Linked DNA regions of Homo sapiens. The protein of the gene in region 2 interacts with the protein of the main gene of each other region in a biochemical or structural test. Each region holds a gene or a part of one and is shown on either strand. Other genes may lie near its edges.

Region 1 (7,026 bases), on a different chromosome or scaffold from region 2:
CAAGTAGGTGCCCGTGGAGCAAACAGAGAAAAGCGGGAACACGCGCTCCTGGAAGTTGACGCGGAAGGTGTAGAGGTGGCGCATGTCCTCCACAGCGTAGAAGGACACGGCTCCCACCTCCAGGTCCAGGGCCACCCGCACGCGCGACAGGTGCCCGCAGCTGAGGGGCGACCGCTCGGGGCTGGTCACGGCCCAGTACTGGCCGCCGTTGAGCTGCAGGGCCCAGACGCCCTCCTCGGGAGTGAAGGGCGTCAGGCCCTTTCGGCGCACGCTCTCGCGGGCCACGCCAAAGGCCCAGCCGTCCTTAGAGCCCACCTCCACCTCCCAGTGATGCCGGCCCGAGGAGAAGCCGCAGGACGCCAGGACGCGGGTGTTGGTGTCGAAGCGGCAGGGGTGGTTGGGCAGGTCCTGGGCCCGCTCGCCGAGGCGCACGCCCTTAAGATCCAGAGAGAGGATGAGGCGCGGGTTGGCCGTGTCGGGATCCAAGGTGAGCTCCACTGCAGACAGAGACAGGGAGAAATGTCCCCACGCAGCCAGGCCCCTGGCACAGTCTTTGCAGGGCCGCGCCCGACCTTGCTTTGCAACCTGCCTGCCTTTCCCTCTAGAATCCCCCCAGCACCCAGCGCCAAGGCCCAACCAACCCCCACGCTCTGCCTCCCAGAGATTTTGCTTCCCCCCGCCCCGACCACTCAACAAGTACTTACTGAAATCAAACAAATGCAATGTGTGGGCCTGGTTTGAACCCCAATTCAACAGATGGGGATATTTGAATGCTAGACATTGGAAAGAATCATTAATCTGTCCAGGTGTGAGGACTGCTTTGTGGTTATGTTTTACAAAGTCTGTTTCTTTAGAGATAACACACTGAGGTATTTATGGCAATGATATGTTGTCTCTGATGCTTTAAAATAATACAGTAGGCCAGGCGCAGTGGCTCACGCCAGTAATTCCAGCACTTTGGGAGGCCAAGGTGTGTGGATCACGAGGTCGGGAAATCAAGAACATCCTGGCTAACATGGTGAAACCCCGTCTCTACTAAAAATAAAAAAATAAAATAAATTAGCCGGGCGTGGTGGCGGGCGCCTGTAGTCCCAGCTACTCGGGAGGCTGAGGCAGGAGAATGGCATGAACCCGGGAGGTGGAGATTGCAGTGAGCTGAGATCACGCCACTGCACTCCAGCCTGGGCGACAGAGCAAGACTCTGTCTCAAAAATAAAAATAATAATAACAATAATACAGTGGAGGCCGGGTGAGATGGTGCACAGCTGCGATACCAGCACTTTGGGAGGCCAAGGCCAATGGGTCACATGAGGTCAGAAGTTTGGGACCAGCTTGGGCAACATGGCGGAAAACTTGTTTTGTATTTTCTCTACTAAAAATACAAAAATTAGCCCGGCATGGTGTCCTGTGCCTGTAATTCCAGCTGTTTGGGAGGCTGAGGCATGAGAATCGCTTGAACCCAGGAGGCAGAGGTTGCAGTGAGCAGAGATCAGGCCACTGTACTCCATGATCTCACTCCAGAGTAAGACCCTGTCTCAGAAAACAAAATAATCCCACAGGAAGTGGATAGCAGTGTCTATGAAAACTGTGGCCACTAATTGATCACTGCGGACGGTGAGAGATGGGTATGTAACATTCTTTACACTCTTCTCTCTACTTTTGAGTATGTTTGAAATTTTTCATAATAAAAAGTTAAGGCCAGGTGTAGAGGCTCATGCTTGTAATCCTAGCACTTTGGGAAGCAGAGGTGGGAAGACAGCTTGAGCCCAGGTGTTGGAGACCAGCCTGGGCAATATAGCGAGACATCCGTCTCCACAAAACATAGAAAATTTAGCCAGGCATGGTAGTGTGCTCCTGTAGTCCCAGCTACTCGAGGACGCCCAGGAGAGAGGATCGCTTGAGCTTGCGGGGTGGAGGCTGCAGTTCCACTGCACTCCACCCTGGGCAACAAAGCGATACCTTGTCTCCAAAAAAAAAAAAAAAAGTTAAAATATGTACACTTACTGTGAGCACTACTACGATTGAGGCCCTGGGGGTACCACAGAGTATCAGAGTAGTCCTGCCTGCCTGCAGCTTCCTTCCCACAGGGAGAGGATTGAGGATAGATTATAAACAGAAGATGAGAGGGACCAGAAGAGCAGGCTGTAACTTCAACCAGAGTGGCCAGGGAAGACCCTCACTGAAAAGGGGCATCGAGCAGACAGATATAAAGAAGGCAAAGAAGCAGGCCACAGGACTGGCTGGGGAAAGCATGCTCCAGGTAGGGGCCTGGGGTGGGGGAGCCTGGCAGTGCAAAGGCCCCGGGATGGGTGTGTGCTTGGTACACTGAAGGAACAGCAGGGAGGATGTGTAGCTGCGTGGAGTAGAAGGGGTGTGCAGTGAGGCTAGAGCCCGTGGGCCCTTGAGACCTCCATGGGGACTCTGACCTTTACCAAGTCAGAGGGGCTGTGGCAGGGCTCTGAGCAGAGGAGGGCCTGGTCTCACTCAGGTGTTTTAGGTGGCACCCAGACACACTCTGACTTAGCTCAGACATCAGCATCAGGAATATGTGCCCTCCCCTCCCCTCCTCTGGGTGTTGGATGCCACACATTCCAGAGCTTTGCAAGAGTAAAAACGATATTCCTTCCAGTCTTTAGCTTCCCCTTGCTTTCCTGGTCCCCTGTATACACCCCATTCCCAGGAGAGGTTTCCATCCATCTTGGAGTGGGGACCGGGTAGAGGCTCACCCAGGTGGCCGAGAAGCCTTTCCCAGTCTGAGTATCTCGAGGTACAGGGCATTCCTGCTCCTAACCAACCTGCAGCATTTGGGCCAACATCTGAGGGTGTCAGAGCTCCCAGGATGGGGAGGGGGTGGTGTGGGGGAGGGGACAGAGGAACAGGGTTGCTGAGGTGGGTGGGCTGAAGGAACCGACCATATGCAAAACCCTGAGATGGTCACGAGCAGGGAGTAGGATCTCTGTGTGGCAGACAGTCCATACTCGCCATCACAGCACCATCCCTACCTTTCTCCTCTTTCTCCAGCTCTCCCCGAAGGTCCTCTGAGGAGGAGAAACAAAGCAAGGCGTGCATGAGCGACACGGGAGATTATATGGCAAGGTCACCAGCTCTTTATATCCCAACTGACTCATTCATTCCCCAGAGACTCCTAAGGCCAAGAGTGAACGTGCAGGCACAGGGCCAAGCATGGGGAGCGGGGGGCAGGGGGCCCATACCCAAGCATTCTAGCTCTACCCAAGTGGCTCTGAGCTGAGCTCCCCTGCACAGCTCTCTTCCTAACCCCAGTCCCCCAGCAGTACCCCTCTACCCCATCTGTGCCCATGAGAAGCGGCATGCCCTGCGGGGGCCTGACTAGATTTGCCACCACAGCCCCTACACCAATCTGGCCATGGCACAGCCAGCTCCTATTTTCACACACAGCTTCTGGAAAGCACACCCAGGGACCCCTGAGCTACCAGGAACCCTCCACCACCACCGCACTATGTGGCCCAGCTTGGCGCCCAGGCCCCTACCTTTGAACTTCTTCAGCATCCCTTTTAAGACAAAGGTCTTGAGAGAAACATTCCAGACTTTATTCTTCATCTCAGAAGAGACTGTGGTTGGCTTGGGGCCAGGCACATTGCTACACCTGCAGGACAAGGGCTCTGAGAAGGGCCTGTGTGCACCATTTTGCTCCCACAGGCTGTGACAATTAGGATGGCGAGGTCCTCTTGGCAGAAAGAGGTAGAAAAGGGAGAGCCAGACCTCATGCAGAAAAACCCATGGCCAGGCAGGTGGGCGTTTGTCTCGGAAGGTCCCCAGGCAAGCAAGTCGGGGGATCAGGAGGTGAGAGGTCAGGGGACAGGGAATAAAGACAAGGCTCAGTGAAAAGGGAAGAAGCAACTTAGAGAGGCCCCAGGAGCTGTGAGGTCACTCACCTGCTCAGCGTGCTTTTGAATTCCTGGAAGGAAAGATAGAGGAAACCAAATCAGCATCAGGTAACCTCCATTCACCTCTGAGAAACAAAGCTTGCCCCTTGCTGTGCCTCCCAGATGTAAGCATAAGCAAGTGTGCCACGCCTCACTGCCTGCGTGGGCCTCAGGGGCAGCAGCTTCCAGTGGCTGCTGGCTGCAGGGTGTCTCACCCACGCAGTGGACCTCTCACCCTTTGCCACAACTCTTCACGTGCTTTCTTTCTATCTTTGCTGCTTTCTTAGTTACAGAATCATCACTGGAGCTATCCCATGGGACCCAGTGCTGCGTGTGTCCTGGAAACCACCTGAGGGAGGTCACAGCCCTTATGCACCTACTGCTCACTCAGCCCCATAATGACTGTTCTTAACCCATCTATGGATTGTGAAGTTTATCTAGTTGTTTATAACTTTTTTTTTAGCGAAATAGAATAGAAAACATCAAAGTGCATACGTGTAGCAAAGGTGAGTATTATTTTCTGAGACTTTTGTCTCAAGCTTGTGATTCTGAAATACGATATATATTATTGTGGCTCATAGTCAAGAAAGTTTTCACATCTCTCTAGACCTCCAACCCCAGGAAAATCAGGGCACTTCTCTCCAGTCCCCTTCAGCTCCAGATCATGTGATTCTCCTAGACCCCCCAGGACTGACACTGTTCTCTAGCTGCTGGTCCTGATGCCTTAGGATAAATGACTCGAGCCCCTGGCTGAGCCAGACTTACCTGGAGAAAGTCAAGGTCAGGCTTTTGAGCTGTCTCCTGGATCTGGCTGCTGAGCTTGGACAGCTGGGTGATCTCAACCCCGAGCTGGGCCAGGTTCTCATTCTGCTTCTGTGCCACCTCCCGGGACAGTTCCTCCAGGCGGCCTAGCAGCCGACCCTCCTGCTCCACCAGGAAAGCCCTCAGTGCCTGGAACTCTGCCCCCACCTTCTCCTGCTCCGCTGCCATCTGTTTCTGTCCCAGGAGGAGAAGTTGGAGAGGGACTTGAACATGGAGACATAACATTTGGCCAGTGGCCTGAGTCATCCCACAGGGCAAGGCTTCGTCCCTGTCACTGCTGGAGGATCGGAGACACACCCACCTACGCACGCAGTGCGTGCTCTATTGTCAGTGTCCCAGCTCTGAACAAGCTGTAGTCTGGACACATGCTCTTTTCTCCCCTGCCACAGATGCACCCACACATGTCTGTGGACCTGTGCTCCATCACCTAAACCAAGGCAGCTTCATACTCCCCCCAGAACTACGCCAAGCTGCAGCTTCCTCACTTGAAAAGCAGAAGGGATAAATTAGTGCCTCCTGGGGCAACCATAGGATTAAACTGAGATTGCTTTTTCTTCCTCAAGCACATTTATTTCATCACCCTCAAACTTTTACACTTCACTTTCTTTTTAAAGGCCATCTTTCCTGTTTAGCAGTTATAATGCTAACACATGCTCAAAATACAAAACTTGGGAGATGTAGGAAAGTAGAAAGAAGGAAGAAAAGTCCGATGCCAGTGACCAGAGGTAGCAGCACACCCCCAAGGAACGAAGTGAGAATATGCGGCATGCAAGTGTCATATTCTGTTCTTTCCATTAACAGCATACACCGGATTTTTTACTCGAGTTTTCAGATGCAGACTCATGCCCTGATCTCTTGATTTTTTATGTGAACACACGTTTGGCACTCAATATGTCCCACCAGGAAGTTCCTCTTCCTTAAAACTCCTGGGCGGAGGAAGGGAGTCCTGTGAAGTTGGGAGACCTGGGTTCAAGGTGTCCTACAATGCCCCCACCTTTCCTTCAGCTTCCAGGCAGGCTGCAGTAGCCTGGAGCGCCTTATGGATATTAACTCCCTCAACCCTGACGGCAGCCCAGTGGGGAGGGTGCACTTCCCTTCAAGTCTTACAGGTGAGGAGACAAAAGACAGACACATCACCAGGAAGTGTTAAGCCAGGCTTCTCGGCCAGTTGCCTCACAAGGAGGTAGCACAAGTGAAACAGTATTTGCCAAAATACTCTAAGCCAGGGTTTCCCAACCTTAACACAGTTGACATTTTGGGCCAGATACTTCTTGGTTGTAGGGGGCTGCCCTGTGCCTTGTAGGACATTTAGCCGCCCCTCTGGCCTCTACCACGAAATGCCAATAGCATCCCTATCCCATTGTTGACAACCAAAAATATAGTATCTCCAGACTTTGCCAGATGTCCCCTGGGGTAGGAGCATTTTCAAATAAGAGCATTCCTTCTCCCTTTTGTGTTGCAGCAATAGTTGGGCTCTACCTCTGATGTTTCATTAAGCAGGGTATTGTAAATGAGACAAGTGTCATAAATCCAGAAGTATTTTATTGCTGCAAAGAACAGGTAGAGCTCACACCTGTCATCTCAGCACTTTGGGAGGCTGAGGGGGGCAAAGTCAGGGGAGAAGGTTGCTTGAGCCCACGAGTTCCAGACCAGCCTGGGCAACACAGGAGACTACCCCCAACCCCAGCTCTACAAAAAATAAATTAAAAATTAGCCGGGTGTAGTAGTGCACACCTGTAGTCCCAGCTACTCAGGAGGCTGAAGTGGGGGGATCGCTTGAACGACTCCAGCCTTTGTGACAAAGTGAGACTCTGTCTAAAAGCAAAGCAAAACAAAACAACAACAAAAACGAATGTGGGGGTGGATGGATGGATGTTGGGAGAGGACAGAGGTGGAAGGTGTTAAGCAAGGCCTGGGGACTCCGGTCAGAGACTGTGAAGCTGCCGCCGGTGCCAGGGAAGGCCCTCTGGTTCCTGGATGTCAACCAGTGGGGGAAGAGCTGCATTGGGAGTCATTTCTCCAGTGGAGGAGGGATGAAGGTCTAGAGGGTGAGCTCTTCCTCATGGAGGAAAGTGAGTGATGAGGTAGGAAGGTCTGGGATGCACACTGGGTGCAGGCATAACAGATATAGTTGAGGGTCTGGAAAGGACCCTAGGGTGTCTGAACTCCAGGCTCCTCCTCCACCCCTCCTGACATTGAGGATGGGAGGGTCCTCTAGTTCACCTTCCTTCAATTCCCTGCCTTGACAGGTCCTAGTAGATCCTTTCATTCTTTTTTTTTTTTTTTTTTGAGATGGAGT
Region 2 (6,962 bases):
AGCCTGGCCAACATGGCAAAACCCAGTCTCCACTAAAAACACAAAAAAAATTACCTGGGCGTGGTGGCCAGCGCCTGTAATCCCAGCTACTCAGGAGACTGAGTAGGAGAATTGCTAGAACCCTGGGAGCGGAGGTTGCAGTGAGCCAAGATGGCATCACTGCACTCCAGCCTGAGCAACACAGCGAGACTCCATCTCAACACAAAAAACAAGAACAAAACACAATTAACTTAAATATGCTGTTCTTATCTGTCTCTTCTTATGAGACTATTTATTATTAAATCCATGAGGGCAGAAATCTTGTCTGCTTTTGTTCATTGCTATAACCACAGCAACTAGATAAGTGTCTGACACATAGAGGTCCCCCAAAAGATAACTGGCTCAGTGAATAAACAAAGTTGATAATTTTATTGAAGATTTATGTATAATCTAGTTGTCTTAAAAGAGCCAAATGTTGCCATTAAGATAGTCAGGATATAAATTCTGTATAACAAAGATACAGAATAACCACACAGAAAGTAGGGTTGTCTTTCAAAAAGCTTGACATATATATTAAAATATTCTTAAAGATACTACCAGCAAATCTGCACTAGATATTTTAAAATACAAATAAAAAGGGAAAGACTTTTCAATAAATATAGGAAGCATCCGTTTTCCATTCCTCTAACCAGAAAACACAGAAGAATAGAGAGTGATAAGATTTCGATGGAACAAGGTGAAGGAAAAACTTAAAAGGGTGGTAAGAGTCTGAGATAGTAATACTTAGGGCACAGAAAAATGCACTATTGCACTGTCAATCAAGTATTTGTTTCCAATTCTTAAGACATCATGTAGGCCAGGCACGGTGGCTCACACCTGTAATCCCAGCACTTTGGGAGGCCAAGGCAGGCGGATCACCTGAGTTCGGGAGTTCAAGACCAGCCTGACCAACATGAAGAAACCCCGTCTCTACTGAAATACAAAATTAGCTGGGCGTGGTGGTTCATGCCTGTAATCCCAGCTACTCAGGAGGCTGAGGTGGGAGAATCGCTTGAACTCGGGAGGTGGAGGCTGCGGTGAGCCAAGATCGCCCCATTGCACTCCAGCCTGGGCAACAAGAGCGAAACTCCATCTCAAAAAAGAAAAAAGACACCATGTAAAGTTCAAGTTCAAGATTACCAACCTCTCTCTTACAAACAAATCTGCCTTTTCCAGATACTAAATCTAACGAGATGACACACTACGTTCTCTTGTCAAATACAAGTGTTGTGGATTTTAATCTTAATGTTTAGCCTCAAATAATGTTTTAATCTTAATACAGATAATAATCTTAAACTTGTCATAAAAAATGTTTTAATCTTAACACAGATAAAAATCTTTAAGTGGTAATGTAGCCTATTGCATCTACTGTTCAACTAGCATTCCACTGTTCCTTTTTTGGCCTCAAATGACGAAACTTCTCCAACGTCTCTGGGGAGACTAGTGTAAAGTATAATGTTTCCTGAAATTGTTCCTGTTTTTTCCCTGCACCATTCGTGATATCTCTTCAACTAGAAATGTTACATAAAACTTTTCTGTTCTGCAGGCAAGTCCAGAGGGAGAAGCAAGGTAAAGAGAATATTGTAAGGAAAACAGGTTGAAAGGGGAATAACATAAAAGCACAGGAGTAAATGTGAAGCAAAGCTATATTTGTACAAAAGAGGAAGAAGATGCAGAAAAGGGAAGAAAAACACTTTTAGCAGAGTAAAGAAAAAAAAATGGAGGAGGAACAGAGACTTGCTTCTTCCAGAAACAAAAGCAAAAAACACTTCTAAGAAAATGTGGTCTCTTTACCCAAGGGGATATTATGAAAACGCTAAAGGGTACTCAGCTGACACTCCTATTGAGCGTTCTACTTTCTCTTCCAATGCCTTTGATACCGCTAGTCTTCACCTGTGAATTAAATGCAGGCTACAGATAACGCACTCAATCCCTGCACAACTACAATTGTGGTTGCCATCTTTGCCTGGAAACAAAAAACAAAAAAACCCACAACTCCCTAGATTCGGGAAAAAGGAGTAAATTAAGTTGGAAAGCCAGAAAACCACGCCTTGCTAAGTCGGGGGGATATGGCACAGGTTAACAAACGCCTCCTACCAAACTAAGGTTCCACTAAAGGTCTGGGAATAAGGGCAAAGAGATGTATAGCCTTATCGCGACCGCAAGGGTGGGGCCTTGCAGTGGGAAACAAAATAGAAGGCAAGCTATCCCGAGAGGTTTAAGGGGGCTGAGGACTCGGCTCTCGGGAGATCGCCCATCAGGCGGTGGACACGGGGCAGCTTCGAGAGGAAGGAGACAGTGGACTGCTGGAGGAATGTCCGCGAGAATACCGAGGCTGATGGAAATAGAAGATACCCACGGGCACAGGATTAAGAGTCAAAGGGAAGAAGAGAGGGACGGGGCCGAGCAGTCTGGGGGGCCCGGCGTGGGAGGCCGGAGCAGAGGCCGCTAAGCGCCGTCCGCAGCCAGCCGCCTTCTCCGGAGACGCATTCTCGGCTCCCGCACACTCAGCCCCCCGCCGCCCCTGCCCCGGCAACAACCGCGGGCGCAGCTGTTTCCGTCGGGCCAGGGACAGCGGGGGTAAAGGCAACCCTGGGGCTGGCGGGCAGCAGACTGGCAGCGCCCGTGTGTGTGTGCGGGGAGCCGATTCTGAGACCGCCAACGCCAGACTTTGCCCTTTCTTCCCCAACCCTCCTTTATCACCCAACTTCCCGGCCGGCTGGTGTCCGCTTCGACCGACGGATACCGCACCCCCCACAACGCCTCTCGCCGCCTCTTACCCCTCCCCCGACGCCCTGAGCTGAGGGAAAACAGGCCACCCGGACCGATCCCGAACCCGCCCGGGTGTCCCCGAATCGCGGACGCCACCCCCGCCCGAACGCTGGCACTCTCTCGGCGGCTCCCTGGCCCGCCCAGATGCAGCAAACTCCTCTCACCTGCATTGACGCCATGATGGAACCATCCCCCCAAGACCGGCGAGGCCAGAGACGCAGGGGGAGGAGCTGCCGTGCTCGCGTCACGCCGCGGGGGCTCAACATCCCGGGCGCGGGGGCGGGGTCTGCGATGGGAAGGGGATGGAGCGAGGGGATTGGCTGGCGCGCAGGGCGGACGGGAGGAGGGGCTACGGGGCGGGGCGAGGGCGCGGTAAATGGCGCTCTGAGTACTTTCTGTCTCAGTCCGGCTGGCCGCTCACGCGTCGGGCCCCCATTTACTCTCGTTACTGAGGAGACACGGCTCCAGTTTTGACCCGACTACGGTTGTTTTCTTCGTGTGTACCGCGAAATGCTGATGACGTCCGGTTCCGCGCAGTTTTTTTCCTATTTCGTTTCCAACCACAGTTGTGCGGTTCACAGATTTTTCCCTTGGGATGTGTTTTCCATACCTCCAAGCCCACTCTCAGAGCCTTGGGGCCCCATAAAACTTCATGCGCAGCTGCTTTCTGGTATTTGCAGACCTGGAAGGCTTCTCGTATTCTTAATTTGGGGAAGAGAGACATAGGTTTCCTTGTACAACGGGATGAGGATTTAAGAGCAGAACGACACTGATATTTTAAAGGCGAGGGTATTTAGATTTGTGGAGCTGAAACTTGCCTGAAAAGGGAGACAAAATTTGGAAGTTTGTTGTGTGCAGTTTCTGCCCCTTACCCCCGCCCTTCACTTTTAAACTGCGCATATATCAACAATAGTTACGGTTGTTGCAGCAGTCTAAATTTGATTATCAGAATTGACCCTAGGCATGAATTTTTTTTTAAATATACCAATGTCGTGTTATATACACTTATACCATTATGTCCAGACTTCTCTTAAGCATAGTTCGTGGTGGGCAGTTTTGTGGTCATTTAGGGATGAACTTGGGTAGGGAAAGCTGAGCATACATAATTTATTTTAGGAATGCACCAGTTCTGCCAACATTTATCAGAAGTCACGTTTTTAAAAAGCTATTCTGGAACTGAAGATGTCATTGGTTTATAAGAGGAAAATGGAAGCCAAAAGCTTACACCTCATGCTCTATCTTTAAAAATTAAGGTGGCAGACACAATGAGTAGAAGGCTTTTATGTTACCAGAATGAAGGCTTAAAATCTGTCATTTTATTGACTCGGCTTTCTTTTTAGAAATTTCTTTAAGATATAAAAGCAATGTGGAATATCACTCTTTCACACTCTTAAAATAGATTACGTTCTCTGGAACTTCTCTAATCTGAAATGTGTTCAAAAAGGAAAAAGATCTTTAAAATACGCCAGTTAGTCTATGGTATAATATTAAACACTATTCATCACTAGAGAAGTTATGGTGGTATACCCTCCCCTTTCTCAGATGTCCACCTTAATGCCAGAAATGAGCGGAGTTTCCCTTTGTTGTGCAAAATGACTGTGTCCTTGAGGGATGTTTGGATGCTCTTGGTAAACCGGAATCAGCCAGAAGCATATCCGGTGTTAGCCTTGTTGTGTCATCAACATTACAACAGTGAGGAAACCCACATATTCCAATGAAAGAGGAAAACTTAAAGAAGAAGTTTCCAGTGTATTTTCTTTGAGATATATTTATTCCTATGACCTCAGAAGATCAGCTTTTACCGTCCAAGGTTCACTTTGCCTAAAAGCTGATTGTTCCTGTGGAAACAGTAGCATCGGATGACCCTACAAACAAAGCATTATGACATCATCAGAGCCAACAACCTGGCATGACAGATACTAATAAGGAAAAAAGAGGTTACAAGAATTCTGACACTCATCACAGTGGATCCAATATCTGGTCCCTTGGGTTTCATATATGTTAGAAGTATCTTCTCAGGAGGGAAAAGTCAATGCCAGTCATATCCTTTCTAGGTAATACTAAATAGCACATAATAACCTGTCTTCTTTTTTTTTTCTTTTTCTTTGAGACGGAGTCTCAGTCTCACCCAGGCTGGAGTGCAATGGCGCGATCTTGGCTCACTGCAACTTCTGCCTCCCAGGTTCAAGTGATTCGAGTAGGTGGGATTACAGGCGCACACCGCCACGCTCTGCTAATTTTTTGTAATTTTTTTGTATATTTTGTAGAGATGGGGGTTTCACCATGTTGGCCAGGCTGGTCTCGAAGTCCTGACCTCGTGATCCACCCGCCTCAGCCTCCCAAAGTGCTGGGATTACAGGTGTGAGCCACTGCGCCCGGCCATTCTTTTGTTAATATTTAATAAAAAGATCCTGACATAGGAGCCAAAACAGTGACTTACAGATGGTATGGGGGGTATATAATTATCTCCAGTGAGCATGTAATGTTAATATCTAAAACACTATTATGCCATGTTTGAAGACTAGGCTCATATTTCTACAGAGCGAGGCTTACTATCATTACTATCAGATAGGCAAAAGTTAAAATGTCTGACAGGATAATGCCAGTGCACTCCAGTCTAGGTGACAGAGCAAGACCCTGTTGTCTCAAAAAAAATATCTGACAATACCAAAAGTGAGAGAGGAAGTGGAGCTCTCATAAACTCTATAGGAGTGACACTAGTGCAATCACTTTGGAAAATAGTTCGGCAATAATGAAGTTAAAGTTTCCCATATCCTTACTGGATCTTCTTAATAGCATCATATGAGTTTTATATATATTTATATATATATTATAAATATATATATTTATATATAATATAAAATATATATATTATATATTTATATATATATTTATATATATATATATATTTTTTTTGAGACGGAGTCTCAGTCTGTCACCCAGGCTAGAGTGCGGTGGCGCGATCTTGGCCCACTGCAACTGCAGCCTGCCGGGCTCAGGTGATTCTCCTGCCTCAGCCTCCCTAGTAGCTGGGACTACAGGCATGTGCCACCACACCTGGCTAATTTTTTGTATTTTTAGTAGAGACGGGGTTTCATCATGTTGCCCAGGCTGGTCTCGAACTCCTGGCCTCAAGTGATCCACCTGCCTTGGCCTTCCAAAGTGCTGGCATTACAGGGATTACAGGCCATGCTTGGCCACGTAAGAGTACATTGAACAAATGCATATGTTAACATTGTTTGGATCTAGATTCAAACAAACTGTAAAAGAGATATTTTTGAGACACCTGGAGAAAATTAAATATAGAGTAGATATTAGAGGATATTAAGGAATTATTATTTTTGTTAGATTTGATAATGATGTTCACTTTTTCATTTCCACAGCTATTAGAAATGTCCATCAGCTTACGAGGAGATTCTCCCTCATCTCACAAACTACCTGCATCTCCACTTCCCTGGAAGAAAAAAAAAATCTGGACATACCCAAGCTGTGTATGTGCCTGAGATCTTCCCTTCCAAGGTAAAGAGAGAGCCTGAGACAGGTCTAAATTAGCATCTGGACTTTCTGCTAGTAAAGAAAAGGAAATATGGGAAACTAAATAGTAACATTAAAGGACCCACAAAGGGACTACTGGGTAAGTGCTATAATGGATAATGTAATGTGATTTATGAATGCTTTTGTTCTAGTGATTTATTAAACTGGGAAGTCAGAAGCAGTCCTGTGAACATTTGTTTGTTGAAGCATGAAAAGGCAGAATTGATGAGTCCTTGCTTGAGTCTATGCCTCCACCCAGTAGTTTGTTCTTAGTCTCCTAGGGGCTGATCTCAGCAGAGAAATGGAGACAGTTCAGTCACCAACAGTTTGTTACTGGATTTTGGAAAAGGTACCAAAGTAAGAATCCAAGGCTTGTATTCTTATCTTAGCTCTGTGATTAACAAGCTTAGGTAAGGCTTCTAATCTTTCTGGGTTTCTTTCCTTATCAATAAAATGCGCAAGTCAGACTGCATAATCTTTATGGTTTCTTCCAAATTTCAAATTCCATGCATCTATTAAAGAGAATCAAAATTGTGCATGATTTGTCTAAAATACCATGTTAAAAAGTCTAAGATAAAATGAAATGGGAATTACATACCATTTTGAGTTTAAAAATCACTTTTGTAAATATATTAAGG
Region 3 (7,026 bases), on a different chromosome or scaffold from region 2:
CAGTGGCACAGTCATAGCTCAGCTTTGAACTCCTGGGCTCAAATTATCCTCCTGCCTTAGCCTCCTGAGCAACTGGGGATTACGGGAATGAGCCTCACCCAGCTTATAGTTACAAGTTACATTATTTCTAAAGACTTCATGGTTTTTTTTGTTGTTGTTGCTGTTCTTTGTTCTTTTTTTAAAAAAAGAAAACAACAACAACAAAAAACAGTATTTCACTGTGTTGCCCAGATGGACTCAAACTCCTGGGCTCAAGCAATCCTCCTGTCTCAGCCTCCCAAGGAGCTGTGACTACAAGTGCATGCCACCATGCCTAGTTGGATTTCAGAGTTGTAAAGACCAATGGAAGTAGAAGAAAAAGCAAACTTGACTTTCTTTTTAAAAACGTAAAACATACGTTGGATGCTGCATCATCCTCCTCCTTTGAACTTCCATCCTCTGCATCACTTCATGAGGATGCAGTCTCTGTGCTGGAGGTGCTGTGGCTGGAATATGGTGCGAAATTGGCTGGTGTGTAGGAGGAAGATGCTGAGGGATTGGTGCAGCTGTACTGGCTAAGTGAGTTGGTGGTGGGGGTGCCACAGGATGAGATGTTGCATGAGAAGATATTTGAGAATGGAAAGCATGTACAGGATGAGGAATAACATAATCCACTTGAGGCGGAGGCTGAGTCTGAGGAGGGGGGTTTCCATGAGAATGCGGGCAGGCAGAAGCTTGATGATGAAGTGGCCTTGTCAAAGAGGCATCTGCAAGAAAAATATTTTGAGTATGTTACATAGGCACCATGCAGTTGAACATATATTGCTATTATACATTCCTAGTGTACTTTTAAACATATTAGTATTTTATTTTTATGAATACTTTATCAAGTAAAGTATTCAAGCAACTGCTCAAGCAACTTGCTCCCTTCTTACAATAATCTTGGATATCTTATGTCAATATATATATTATAGTTTAACTTCACTCACAGCTTCACAACATTCTATTATATGAACACACCAAAATGTACTGACAAAATCCCCACTGATAAAAAAGAAACCCAAATGCTATGATAAATATCTGTGTATATGCTCACTCCTGCACTCACTCTTTCATTTACACACATGTATACACACATATATAGAGATCATTTCTGTAGCATAAATTCCTGTAAGTAGTTGTGGGACAGAAAGAAAAAAATAAATTTAGATGCCAGTTAATAAAAATACCCTTTCCAAAAGGTTGCCATAATTAATATTTCCATCAAGAGTACACAGGAAGGGCCAGGCACCGTGGCTCACACCTGTAATCCCAGCACTTTAGGAGGCCAAGGTGGGCAGAGTCACCTGAAGCCAGGAGTTCGAGACCAGCCTGGCCAACATGGCGAAGCCCCGTCTCCACTAAAAATACAAAAATTATCCAGGCATGGTGATGCACACCTGTAATCCCAGCTACTAGGGAGGCTGAGGCAGGAGAATCGCTTGAACCTGGGAGGTGGAGGATGCAGTGAGCTGAGATCATGCCACTGCACCCCAGCCTGGGCGACAGAGTGAGACTCCACCTCAAAAAAAAAAAAAAAAAAAAAAAAGGAGCACACAAGAAGGCCTGATTACCCCCACATTACCACTAAATTTTTAAAATAAATGCCAATCTGAGAAAAATCTTTTATTTCTTGACCGCTTGTATGTGTTCTCAGAATTATCTATTTACATGCTTAGCCTATTGTATTACTCACCTTTTTCTTATTGACTTGTAAGTATTATTTGCATATATGGAAGCTCTGTCATAATAGGGTGTAAACATTTTTCCAAACTGTCTCTCTCTCTCCCTACCCCATGTCATTATTCCTGTGCTACATTAAGGTGAAGGAGACCTATTTGTTTCCCATCAAATATGGACGTAAAGTCCTTAATAAGATGGCTCCTACCATTTCTTCATTCTACATCTTTATGTTTCAAAGTGACTGCTGAAAAATCTCTCTGAGGAATACACATCTTCCTTACTCTTAGAGATGTGCATCTACTTGACATGTAAAAAAAAAAAAAAAGTTTGTCTTAGATTTCAATACAAATTTCATTTTATTGGAAGATGTTCTTGGAAGTCTGATATAGACCAACAGCCATTCTCTAGTTTCATTACAGAAGTTTTCAATTTTTAATGCTTTTGATTCATTCAGCAAGGGCAGAAGTTAGGTAACAATAACTCAACTATATTTTCAAAGTATGCCTTGTTAGCATGTACTTAAAGGAAACTTTCAACAAATCTAATTTTTAAAAGTTGCAAGACAAATTTTTAAACCAATTTTCTAAAAGTTCTGTTTTCAAATCAATGCTTTACTCTTCAAGAAGGCACAAAGCTCAGTAGCTAGCTCTTAATCATAAAAAATGAATCCACTATGTTTTATGATTGTTAACTATCCTTTCTCAAATTCACAGCATTTTTTCTAGTTGCAAAGTTTTATATTTGTGTAATCATTATACAACATTCACAAATATTACAAAGCAAGAAGTTTTGTTTCAGAATGAGTCCATTTATTTAACTACTCTTTAGACATCACTTTAATTCACTGTTTAAACAAAACAGGTTGCTGACCATTTTAAGAGTGACATATTCCACATTCCCAAAAACCCTTTCCCTTCCTCTATTTGTGTTCCCAACAGTTAAAAAAAGTTCTTGATATTGTTTCCTAGACGTTCAACATATCACTTGCAGATGTAATACTATGCTTTATTCCAACATTTACTCACTGCATTCCCATAGCTTTACAGTGTAGACCATTTGCTTTATGATTAATCGTAAGTAGCCTTACCTATACCTCTCTTTTTTTTTTTTTTTTCTTCTTTTGAGAGGGAGACTCGCTCTATCGCCCAGGCTGGAGTGCAGTGGTGTGATCTCAGCTCACTGCAATCTCCATCTCCCAGGTTCAAGCAATTCTCCTGCCTCAGCCTCCCGAGTAGCTGCGATTACAGGCACCTGCCACCACACCCGGCTAGTTTTTGAATTTTTAGTAGAGACAGGGTTTCGCCATGTTGGCCAGGCTGGTCTTGAACTCCTGACCTCAGGTGATCCACCCGCCTCGGCCTCCCGAAAGTGCTGGGATTACAGGCGTGAGCCACTGTGCCTGGTCTTTTTTTTTTTTTTTTTTTTTTTAGAGACAGGTTCTCACTATGTTGTCCAGGCAGGAGTACAAGGATTGTTCACAGGTGTGATAACAGCACACTACAACCTTGAACTCCTGAGCTCAAGCAATCCCCATGCCTCAGCCTCCTGAAGAGCAGGAACTACATGCTCATACTACCAAGCCAGGCCTTACATATCTTCTCAATACATCTTATTAATAAGATAGTAAAACTTTTAAATAATAGCATTTCAAGTACAGTTGTTTTATCACTTCATCAAGACCACAAACCTTTCAAAAGCAGAGAGAGACATATTCTTACTCCACAAGTATTGTTGTTATACATATAAATGTACTTATGAAACAGCAAACTATTCATCTGGATCCAAGTATCACAATTTATAGCCAATAGGAATTATTCCCATTTTACAAGTGCAAAGAATGTAAGGACAGAGAGATTAAATAACTTATCCAAAGTCACCAAGCTAATTAGTCAGAGCTGGGAGGTCAACTCGAATCTATCCAATTCTAAAGCTAGTGCTCTACTATGCCATATTGTCTTCCCCAGTTCATTCTGGATGAAAAAAGGTTTAAGAACCACATGTTTCACACGTGAACTAAAGCATACGGGAAATGTTTTTTAAAAGCACGGGCAAGTTGGGGAGAGAATACACACACTCCTTCAGGAAAAGAAGCCCAAAACAGAGTTATCAAAATGTCTCTAACAGAAAATAATACAATTTAAATTTCCTACCTTCATTCTCATTAACACACTCCTAATGAGGTGTGTAAATTGATGCAGCCCCTTGGAGAGAAAACTTAACAGTATTTATCTGAAAGTTTAGCCCTCTGACATAGCAATCACATTTCTAGGAAGTTAAACTATACATAAACTCAACCATAAACAACTTTAATGTCCATCAACAGAAGACTGATTTAATATACAATGGATATTATGGGGGTATTAAAAACCAATGAGCTAGATTTTTATGTGCTAATATGCAAAAATCAAAATATACTGTTAAATTTAAAAACAAAAAACAAGAAGTAGAATATGTTTGATTTCCCATTTTTAAAAGGTAAGACATATACCTATCTATGTGTACAAAGAAAATTTCTAAAAGTTTTTATAGAACAGTTACTACCTCTGATATATTAAGATTAGTAAGCTGTGCGAGGAAGCTTTTAAATTCTCATTTTATATGACTGCACAGTCTGAATGTTTTAGAATATAACAAATGAATCTAAAACATGTATTTATTAGGACATTTTGAAAGGAATGAACTTACTCATAAACTGCTTCAGTATATTATTTTTAAAGGGGAGGGGCAGAAAATTAAGCATATTGAATTTCAAATAAAAGATGATCAATCAAAAATGAATACCATCAAGTATTACAAAATAGGCCATGCATCACACTGGTGCTCATACAAAGAATTGGCCCATTGGTCAATGCTTTGTAAAAACTTGCTAAATGTTTTCCAATTTATACTTTAAATTTTAAGTTGCATTACTGAGAAGGTAAATAATATATCACCAGTTTCACTGTACAGATTCTGGGTTGATTCCAGCTGCGTCTGCACGATGCAGATTTTTTTAAATGACTGGAGTAGAAGAAAAAATCCAAGAAGATATGTAAGTGAAAATTACCACTTGCCATGTAATCAAAACAAAACACAAATTTCCTTGCTGACTTCCTGGTTCATTTCCAGCATGAATTTTTGGTGTTTATCAGCCAAGTGTTTATTAAGCTTTCATTTCATTATTAGCTTATGATCTAACAAAATAGTAAATATGTTACATAGCCTTAGAGTATTTATCATTTCTTGTGATATCTAACGAATTTCAATTTCTTTAGAAAAGGCATGGCTGGTTCTATTTTATTTTTATAGAAACGGGGTCTCACTATGTTGCCTAGGCTGGTCTCAAACTCCTGGCCTCAAGCCATCCTCCTGCCTTGGCCTCCCAAAGTGCTGGGATTACAGGAGTGAGCCATCATGCCCAACCATGGTTATATTTTAATTGCCTGCATCAAATGAATATAAAAATCCTTTTACAACTCCCAAAGCTTGCTGTTATGTCTCAGCTAACTGCTTGAGAATTCTTAAAAATTTACTTTACTGTGCCTAGAAATACTACTCAACTTTCACATTTCTTCAGCTATACTAAAGAACAAATCTAAATTCCTTAAAACTTCCATTCAATCCACCTCAATTACATAATACTAACATGGGAAAAAATATACCCTACTCTTAAGCCAAGTAAATACTAAAAATTTAAGAACTGGGATTAAAGGTTATTTCATAAGGAAGTACAAAATGCTTCATTGACATGACTCTAGATTTTGTGTCCACTAAGTATATACTTACAAGGGGGTGGCATGTAATGTCGACATGATGAGAGAGAGGGCTGTGGAGGGGGCTGGGGCTGGGGCTGCGCAACCATGCTTGATCCATAGCCATCTATTGATGATAAAGGTTGACTTGGGGCAGCAGCAGCGGCCTGATGGCCAAAGATTGCAGCTCGGGAGGAAGAAACAGGGCAGCAGGGGTCAAATGCAGATGCTCCATGAAAACTGCCACTTCCATGACTTCTGATACCACTGTTGCTCAGGTCCACTGGCAATGCCTGCTAGATAAAAAGGAAGTATATTTTATCTTTCTAAAGTTTGGTCAAATATTTCATGTTATATTATAAAAGTATTCCTAATATAACCAAAAAAACATAATCTTTAAATTAGTTTGAAACCAGGAAGATTCTTAGTATGAAGAACCAGTGAGCACCAACAAAATACTTGGTTATCTTGAATATAACAAGTGTATCCTGGATTGTGAAAACTGTAGTGGTTTTACAGTTAAACCAATTTTTAAAAATCAAGCATAAGATTTTATCACAAGATGAACAAAAGTTTAATATATTAAAATCTTTTTGTCTTATAACAAATACATCTTAGAAACTTTAAAAATCATACTTCTATATTCTCCTTTATCCCAACATTGTGACTAGTACTTTAGGACTCCTTGAGAAAACATACTATCACACTACTGAAAATATTAAGGTTCTAGGAAAAATCTTGTCTGCCCCAAGTTCCAAACTGTATAAAGCAAGAATTCAATTAAAGTGCTAATAAACAAATCTACATTATTCAAAATAACAATGGACATAAGATTTTTCAGACTAAATCATGAATTACCTTTGCCACTCAAAGCTTTCACTTGTTCAAAAACATAAGAATAAAAAAAGTTAAAGCACTGCTTCCTTTTATAGGCATATTTATTGCATTTTATAGGCACATTTAGTGCTTTGCAGATGTTCGGGGTTTTTTGTTTTATTTTTAATAAATTGAAGGTTTGTGGCGACACTGTGTCAAGCAAGTCTATCAGAGTTATTTTTCCAACAGCATGTGGAAACTCTGTGTCTGTGTCACATTTTGGTAATTCTCTTAATATTTACATTTTTCTCATTATTATTTTATCTGTTATGGTGATATTTGATGAGTAGTCATTGATGTTACTATTATAATTGCTTTAGGCACCAAGAACTGTGCCCATATAAGACAACAAATTTAACAGATAAACATGTGTGTCCTGACCAGATGTTTCCCCATTACCCTGCTCTCCTCTCTTTGGGCCTCCCTATTCCCTGAGACACAACAACATTGAAATTAGGCCAATTAATGGCCTCTGGTATTGAAGTGAAAGGAAGATTTGCACATCTCTCATTTTAAACCAAAACCGAGAAATGATTAAGCTTAGTGAGGAAGGCATGTCAAAAGCCCAGAGAGGCCAAAAGCTAGGCCTCTTGCACCAGTTAGCCAAGTCATGAATGCAAAGGAAAAATCCTTGAAAGAAACTGAAAGCACTCCAGTGAACACACAAATGATAAGAAACTGAAACACCCTTATTGCTGATCTAAAGAAAGTTTTAGTG
Region 4 (7,042 bases), on a different chromosome or scaffold from region 2:
TGAACCCGGAGGCAGAGGTTGCAGTGAGCTGAGATCATACCACTGCACTCCAGCCTGGGTGACAGAGTGAGACTCTGTCTCTAAATAAGTAAATGCATAAAACAGAAAGACACCACTTTGTAACCACACAATTAAAAAATAATAAATAACAAATAAATACATAACAGAAAGAGGCTAGGTGCAGTGGCTCAAGCCTGTAATCCCAGCCACTCTGGGAGGCTGAGGCAGGTGGATCATCTGAGGTCAGGAGTTCAAGACCAGCCTGGCCAACATGGTGAAACCCCGTCTCTACTAAAAATACAAAAATTAGCTGGTTATGATGCCACGTGCCTGTTATCCGAGCTACTAGGGAGGCTGAGGCAGGAGAATCACTTGAACCCATGAGGTAGAGGTTGCAGTGAGCCAAGTTCATGCCAATGCACTCCAGCCTGGGCGACAGAGCAAGACTTGTCTCAAAAAATAATTAGTGGCCAGGCACAGTGGCTCATGCCTGTAATCCCAGCACTTTGGGAGGCCAAGGCGGATGAATCACGAGGTCAGGAATTTGATACAAGCCTGACCAAACATGGTGAAACCCCATCTCTACTAAAAATACAAAAATTAGCCGGGTGTGGTGGCGCGCGCCTGTAATCCCAACTACTCAGGAGGCTGAGGCTGGAGAATCGCTTGAACCCGGGAGGCGGAGGTTGCAGTGAAGATTGCACCACTGCACTCCAGCCTGGGTGAGAACAGATCAAGACACCGTCTTAAAAAAAAAAAAAATTTAGCGTGGCATGGTGGCGCATGCCTGTAATCCCAGCTACTTGGGAGGCTGAGGCAGAAGAATCACTTGAACCTGGGAGGTGGAGGTAGGGGTTGCAGTGAGCCGAGATCATGCCACTGTGCCCCAGCTTGGGTAACAGAGCAAGACTCCGTCTCAAAAAAAAAAAAAAGGAAAAAAAGAAAAAATAGAAAGAGACCTATTATTAGTCATTTTCCATTCTCCCCTCCCCCCAGGCCATGGCAACCACTAATCAATCTGTCTCAATGGATTTGCCTATTCTGGACATTTCATATAAGTGAAATCATACAATACATAGTCTTTTATGGCTGGCTTCTTTTAGTTAATATGCTTTTACAAGATTCATCCATGTTGTAATATGAATCAGTACTTTATTCCTTTTCATGGCTGAATAATATTTCATTGTATAGATACACCACATTTGGTTTACCTCTTCATCAGTTGATGAGCATTTGGGTTGTTTCCACTTTTTAGCTCTTTTGAATAATGCTGCTATGAACATTTACGTACACATTTTTCTGCAGACATATGTTTTGCTTTCTCTTGGAACTCTACCTAGGTAGGAGCAGAATTGCTGGGTCATGTAACTCCACATTTAATCTTTTTGAGGAACTGTCAGGCTGTTTTCCAAAGCAGCTGCACCATTTTACATTTCCACCAGCAAGGTACAAGGGTTCCAATTTCTCCACCTCTCATCAATACTTACTATTGCCCTTCTCTTTGATCATAGCCATTCAAGTGGGTGGGAAGTGTTTCTTCTGATGTTCTATGAGAACAGGGACTCCATCTGTCTGGTTCTGGTTCAGTACTGTATCCCAGAACCTACTACAGTGCCTGGAATTTATTACATACTAAATATTGTGTTAAATACACTAAAAAACTGTTCAGTGAATGGATAAATCAAAAGCTGTTTGGATAGTTACAATGGGTATCATGTATTTATCTCTCTAATAGGGATCTTCCACGGGGTCTAATACCTTTTTTTTTTTTAGTATAGTACTGAACCACTCTTCTGATACCATAGTCTTTCTTCTAGGAGGAAATGGGATTAAATTTAAGCTTTCTTGTTTTTCCTCTTTAGGTATACACATACTCATATAGGCACCTACAGATAATTTATTAGATGTTGGCACATTTTGTTTCTTCCTATTTTTACTTCTCTTGCAAAAATTCTTACTTCTACAGGGCTGTTTGCTCACCTCCAGGTATTTCATGCTTGCAAATAGGTTTCCTCCTGTTTCCAGGCTGGCCACAATGGAACAATCAATACCTGTGACGGGCTAGCCTTGCTCTTTTTGGTTTTCTTTTAATATTTCTGAACATCCTGTTTTGGTCCCCCAGTTTAGAAGTATCTGGGGTCATTTAATAGGTGGAAGTCAGCTAAGCCAGGGACTGTGTGATACTCACAGCCAGCACCTAGCACTTGATAAATAGTTGTTCAGCAGTCACAGTGGCTCATGATGTAATCCCAGCACTTTGTGAAGCCGAAGTGGGAGGACTGCTTGAGGCCAGGAGTACCGGCCTGGACAACATGGGGAAACTCCCATCTCTACTATATATGTATGTATATACACATATATATATATCATATGTATATTTTGAGACAGTCTCGTTCTGTTGCCCAGTCTGGAGTGCAGTGACGCGATCTCAGCCCATTGCAACCTCTGTCTCGCGGGTTCAAGCCATTCTCCTGCCTCAGCTACCCAAGTAGCTGGGATCACAGGCGTGAGCTACCACACCTGGCTAATTTATTTATTTTTTATTTTCATTTTTTTTTAGTAGAAATGAGGTTTCACCATGTTGGTCAGGCTGGTTGCAAACTCCTAACCTCAGGTGATCCCCTGCCCCATCTCCCCCCACCCCCCCACCCCCAGCCTCCCACAGTGCTGGAATTACAAGCATGAGCCACCGTGCCCGGCCTGATTTTGAAATTTTTAACAGACTTTTACTCGGGAGGCTGAGGCAGAAGAATCACTTGAACCTGGAAGGCGGAGGTTGTCCAGCCTGGGAGGAGCAAGGCTCCGTCTCAAAAAAAAAAAAAAAGAAAAGAAAAAAAAGAAAAAGAAAAACAGGGCGGGCGCGGTGGCTCATGCCTGTAATCCTAACACTTTGGGAGGCCAAGGCAGGTGGATTACCTGAGGTCAGGAGTTCAAGACCAGCCTGGCCAATACGGTGAAACCCCGCCTCTACTAAAAATACAAAAAATTAGCCAGGTGCAGTGTGGCATGTGCCTGTAATCCCAGCTACTCGGGAGGCTGAGGCAGGAGAATCACTTGAATCCGGGAGGCGGAGGTTGCGGTGAGCCGAGGTTACGCCACACCACTCCAGCCTGGGTGACAGGGCGAGATTACGTCTCAAAAACAAAAACAAAACAAAACAAAAAAAACAGTTGTTCAATAAATGAATGTGAATATAGGAGAAAGACGGCTTGAGGTAGCAAAGGAACACTCCCTTGCAAATGATTCAGGCTTGGTCAACAATACACCTATTGAGTACCCACCGTGTCCTTGGCCCGTGGTGAGGGCCGAAACACAGCACATGGTAAACAAAACAGGGCTCCAGCCTTGGACAGAAGGTTTCTATAATCACTTCTAGCTGCGTTGTTCTATTTCCATACCCATATCTATTCACTTTTTATGGTACATCTATTGATTCTGAAAATTACATTTTAGCTAAGGAATCTACTCATTTGCTTAAGCCCAAAATAGGAAGTTATGATCTAGTGTCAGCAAAACGCCGGATTCACAAGTGTCCCCATGGCGCTGTTTACCCCCAAATAACTAAACCCCGCCAAATGTTGAGATTCCGGACGTGAGGGGTGCTTGGATGGGGAACCCCCGAAAGAATGGACATCACGTCCACCAGAGGGTGCTGTGGGGGCAAATTTGTGCCAGGAGGGGAGCTCGACCGGTGACCCTCAGAGCCAGGTAGGCGTAAGGAGTAAATCTCCTTCTTCCCGGTGTTTCCTTCCCACCCCCTCGAACCATTGCTGCCCCTCCCCCATACTTGGTTCCCCCTGAATAATTTGCCACTTTCGGGGACTTAAGAAGTGTTTGCTTTTGAAAGACATCTGGTTTCTGTGGCTAACGCCCAGTGGTCAGGCCGCCCAGGTCACAGGCCGGCCGGGGGCGGGCGGTGGGTGGGGACTGCTGGGGCGTCAGCGGCCCAGGCGCCGCAGGGACCGCGAAAGGGTTAACCCGGCGGGGGGAGGGGGAGGGGGCGCGGGCCGCGCCTGCGCTCTGCCGCCCTCCATTGTCTCCACGGCGGCGAGGAGCGCCGGCGAGCGCAGCCCGGGACCGAGCGGGGCGGCGCGGCTGGCGGGGCCGGCGGCGGCTGAAGCGAGAGCGCGACGCGACGCGACCGCGGCTTCCCGAGCTGCGCCTGGCCGCCCAGCGCCGCGGCCCGCCCGAGGCCTGGAGGGGTCCGGGCCGCCGTCCATGGTCGCGGCGTCCTGAGGCGGGGGACGCGCCCGGCGCCCCCGGCCCTCCTCCGCCTCCTCCCGCGGGGCGGGCGGCCTCCTCCGGCGCCTCCCCGCGCCCGCCCGCCGCTCGCCGCCGCCTCCCTCCCTCCTTCCCTGCGGCTCCCCCGGCTTTCGGAGCCCGGGGGCGGCCTGTGGCGCGCGGAGCCCGCGCCGGACTGCGCCTCTTTGGACCTTGAGGGGAAACATGCGTTTGCCTTGGATCGTTTGAAATTCTGAGTTTGGGATCCCCGCCCGCCCGCCTGCCTCTTCCGCCCCGCGGGTTTTTTCCTTTTTTCCTTTTGCTTTTTTTCCTTTTCTCCCTCCGGGTCTCCTTTTTGACTCCCTCCCCCTTTATGCTCGCCCAGCCCTCCCCCTGCTGCTGAGAAGTGGGGGAGGGTCTCGGCCTCCAGGTTCCCGCCCCACCGGGGCCCGGGCGAGCATGGGGGGCAAGCAGAGCACGGCGGCCCGCTCCCGGGGCCCCTTCCCGGGGGTCTCCACCGATGACAGCGCCGTGCCGCCGCCGGGAGGGGCGCCCCATTTCGGGCACTACCGGACGGGCGGCGGGGCCATGGGGCTGCGCAGCCGCTCGGTCAGCTCGGTGGCAGGCATGGGCATGGACCCCAGCACGGCCGGGGGGGTGCCCTTTGGCCTCTACACCCCCGCCTCCCGGGGCACCGGCGACTCCGAGAGGGCGCCCGGCGGCGGAGGGTCTGCGTCCGACTCCACCTATGCCCATGGCAATGGTTACCAGGAGACGGGCGGCGGTCACCATAGAGACGGGATGCTGTACCTGGGCTCCCGAGCCTCGCTGGCGGATGCTCTACCTCTGCACATCGCACCCAGGTGGTTCAGCTCGCATAGTGGTGAGTCCGCGGGTGGTGGAGGCCTCGGAGGGAGGGCGCGCCGGGGCGCCCCAAGCCTTCGCGTGCGTGCCAAGGTTTGGGAATGTAGTGCACGACCGGGATCTGTCTGCATTCCCTTTGGTTCCCGATGCCAAGGGATAAATGGGATACCTACCGTCTGGAAACTAGGCTTTCTGCGAGGCTGCGGAGCCTGGCGATTTAGGGACTCACGGCGTGTGTTCACTTGTGGAAGGGCAGAGCGAAGCCTACCTATTGGAGTTCCATTTATTGGCATCACCCTCCTCAGAGAAGAGGTCGTGTCTGGCTGAGAGCAAGTCAGCCTGGGTACTTCCATTCTGCCACTGCAGCACTGTGCCTGCCTCACCGGTAACGGAGAGATGGAGCCAGTTGGAGCAAGCAGTGTCTCCTAAACAGAGTGTGTGAAAATGAAATAAAATCAGGGGCAAGTGATGCCTGGATTAGGGCTCTCACTCTTGCTGGGAGAGAGAGGTGCCCAGTTTTGCCACCCTGCTGGAGATCTGTTTGAAATGTTTAAAATGGAGCAGCCGGCAGGCGGCTGGCATAGACAGGTGTGGCTGCTGTACGGAGGGCCCAGCCGGCGAGTCTCGCGGGGGCTTTGCAGGACCCGGGCTGTGGTCACCCGTACTGCATGCAGCAGGCTTGGCTCCGCGACTCTCGCCTCCCTCCATCTTTTTTTCTTCTGCTCCATGCTAAGTGCTTGGTCTTCCCGTGAATCTGCATCTTTTTGTAACAGGGAGCCTGTCACGGTGGGGCATTATTGCCTGGCTGTTGGCACATGACTGGGGAAAAGGAGGATTCAGAGAATCTGGATGAATTCATTTTATGAACTTCTGGTGACAGGCCAGCAAAAGGTTGGAGGGGGATTTCCCAGGCTCCTAGCGGGAGGGCAAAAAAGGCCTGGCAGGAGGAAAACAGGTCTGTCTGCTAGGTCAGGCATCTAGAAAATTGGCCAAAAGGGATGTGGGGGCCGCTATTTGCTAATTGGCAAGTTGAGTGATGAAGTTACATCTTAAGATTCTTTTGGGTGAGTTGGGAAAATTTAGATAGTGTAGGGGAAAGATTGCTCCTGCCTTTAGGGTACTTTATGGAGGGTAATATCTGTTGGATCACTCTTTTAACTACTGTGAAATAGGGTTGACTTTTGGGGTATCTCTTTCCCCCCCCCTGCAAATAGCCTGGGGTTTGTTTTCATTTGGTTTGGTTTTTTGTCAATTCTGTAAACTTTAATTTGTGAAATAGTGTTGGGGGAGAAACGATTAGTGACTAATTTAGGGTAACACTTAGAAGTAGCTTGTGAATTGTTAGGATGATATTTTAATCTCTGACAGACCTCCGGATATCATTGGAGCTTTTCTGACCTCATGGAACTCTGCCCTGAGTGAGAAGCAGGACATGATTGCCTTTGGCTCTTTCAGGCATTTGATCAAAATTAGGCATTTTGAAATTAATAATTTTTCCTATGGAATTTAGTCCAGAGAGTTAGCCATATTTTTGAGATGACTAGTTTGGTGTTTAAAAGAACTGTAATGAGCATCTGGTTTTGAACTTAAAAGTACTGTAAGAAGTTTCTCTAAAATCACAGAATTTTTTGTGTTGAAAAACATATGAGATATGTAGGGAGGAAGAAAGGGAGTGCTTTTTTTGCTAAAATTTCTTAAGCCTCTTACTAAAAATTTATTTATTATGCTACTACCAGGTTCCATGCTACAGTTATGAGCTTGTAGTTGGATTCCAGAATTTCACTCTTAAGCTGTGAAACCTTATTTTTTTTCATCCGATCATGGTGAGGGTAGGGAGAGCCACTGAACTGTGGGGACAGGAAGGTTGGAGCATATTAATCCTTTAGGGAAGGGTGTCAAAAGTGTGTATGGGAGGCTGCTATTAATATTGTAGGTAATCCATTCCTTACTGTGTAGG

What was found.
Region 1: the proteins of UBE2W (region 2) and TRIM7 form a complex in vitro, tested with the Homo sapiens proteins (one study listed by BioGRID).
Region 3: the proteins of UBE2W (region 2) and RNF111 form a complex in vitro, tested with the Homo sapiens proteins (one study listed by BioGRID).
Region 4: the proteins of UBE2W (region 2) and ZNRF1 form a complex in vitro, tested with the Homo sapiens proteins (one study listed by BioGRID).

Annotation. Positions count from the first base shown.
Region 1 is NC_000005.10:181,195,181-181,202,206, forward strand, and holds part of TRIM7 (E3 ubiquitin-protein ligase TRIM7), read right to left. Parts: intron 5,837-7,026; exon of another isoform or gene 4,974-5,836; coding exon of another isoform or gene 4,902-4,973; coding exon 4,671-4,901; intron 3,938-4,670; coding exon 3,915-3,937; intron 3,626-3,914; coding exon 3,510-3,625; intron 3,039-3,509; coding exon 3,003-3,038; intron 1,702-3,002; exon of another isoform or gene 498-1,701; coding exon 1-497. UniProt on the Homo sapiens protein: E3 ubiquitin-protein ligase that have both tumor-promoting and tumor-suppressing activities and functions in several biological processes including innate immunity, regulation of ferroptosis as well as cell proliferation and migration.
Region 2 is NC_000008.11:73,875,854-73,882,815, forward strand, and holds the start of UBE2W (ubiquitin-conjugating enzyme E2 W), read right to left. Parts: upstream 3,010-6,962; 5' UTR 2,970-3,009; coding exon 2,955-2,969; intron 1-2,954. UniProt on the Homo sapiens protein: Accepts ubiquitin from the E1 complex and catalyzes its covalent attachment to other proteins.
Region 3 is NC_000015.10:59,074,656-59,081,681, reverse strand, and holds part of RNF111 (E3 ubiquitin-protein ligase Arkadia), read right to left. Parts: intron 5,729-7,026; coding exon 5,467-5,728; intron 747-5,466; coding exon 398-746; intron 1-397. UniProt on the Homo sapiens protein: E3 ubiquitin-protein ligase. Required for mesoderm patterning during embryonic development. Acts as an enhancer of the transcriptional responses of the SMAD2/SMAD3 effectors, which are activated downstream of BMP.
Region 4 is NC_000016.10:74,994,992-75,002,033, forward strand, and holds the start of ZNRF1 (E3 ubiquitin-protein ligase ZNRF1), read left to right. Parts: upstream 1-4,032; 5' UTR 4,033-4,680; coding exon 4,681-5,104; intron 5,105-7,042. UniProt on the Homo sapiens protein: E3 ubiquitin-protein ligase that plays a role in different processes including cell differentiation, receptor recycling or regulation of inflammation. Mediates the ubiquitination of AKT1 and GLUL, thereby playing a role in neuron cells differentiation.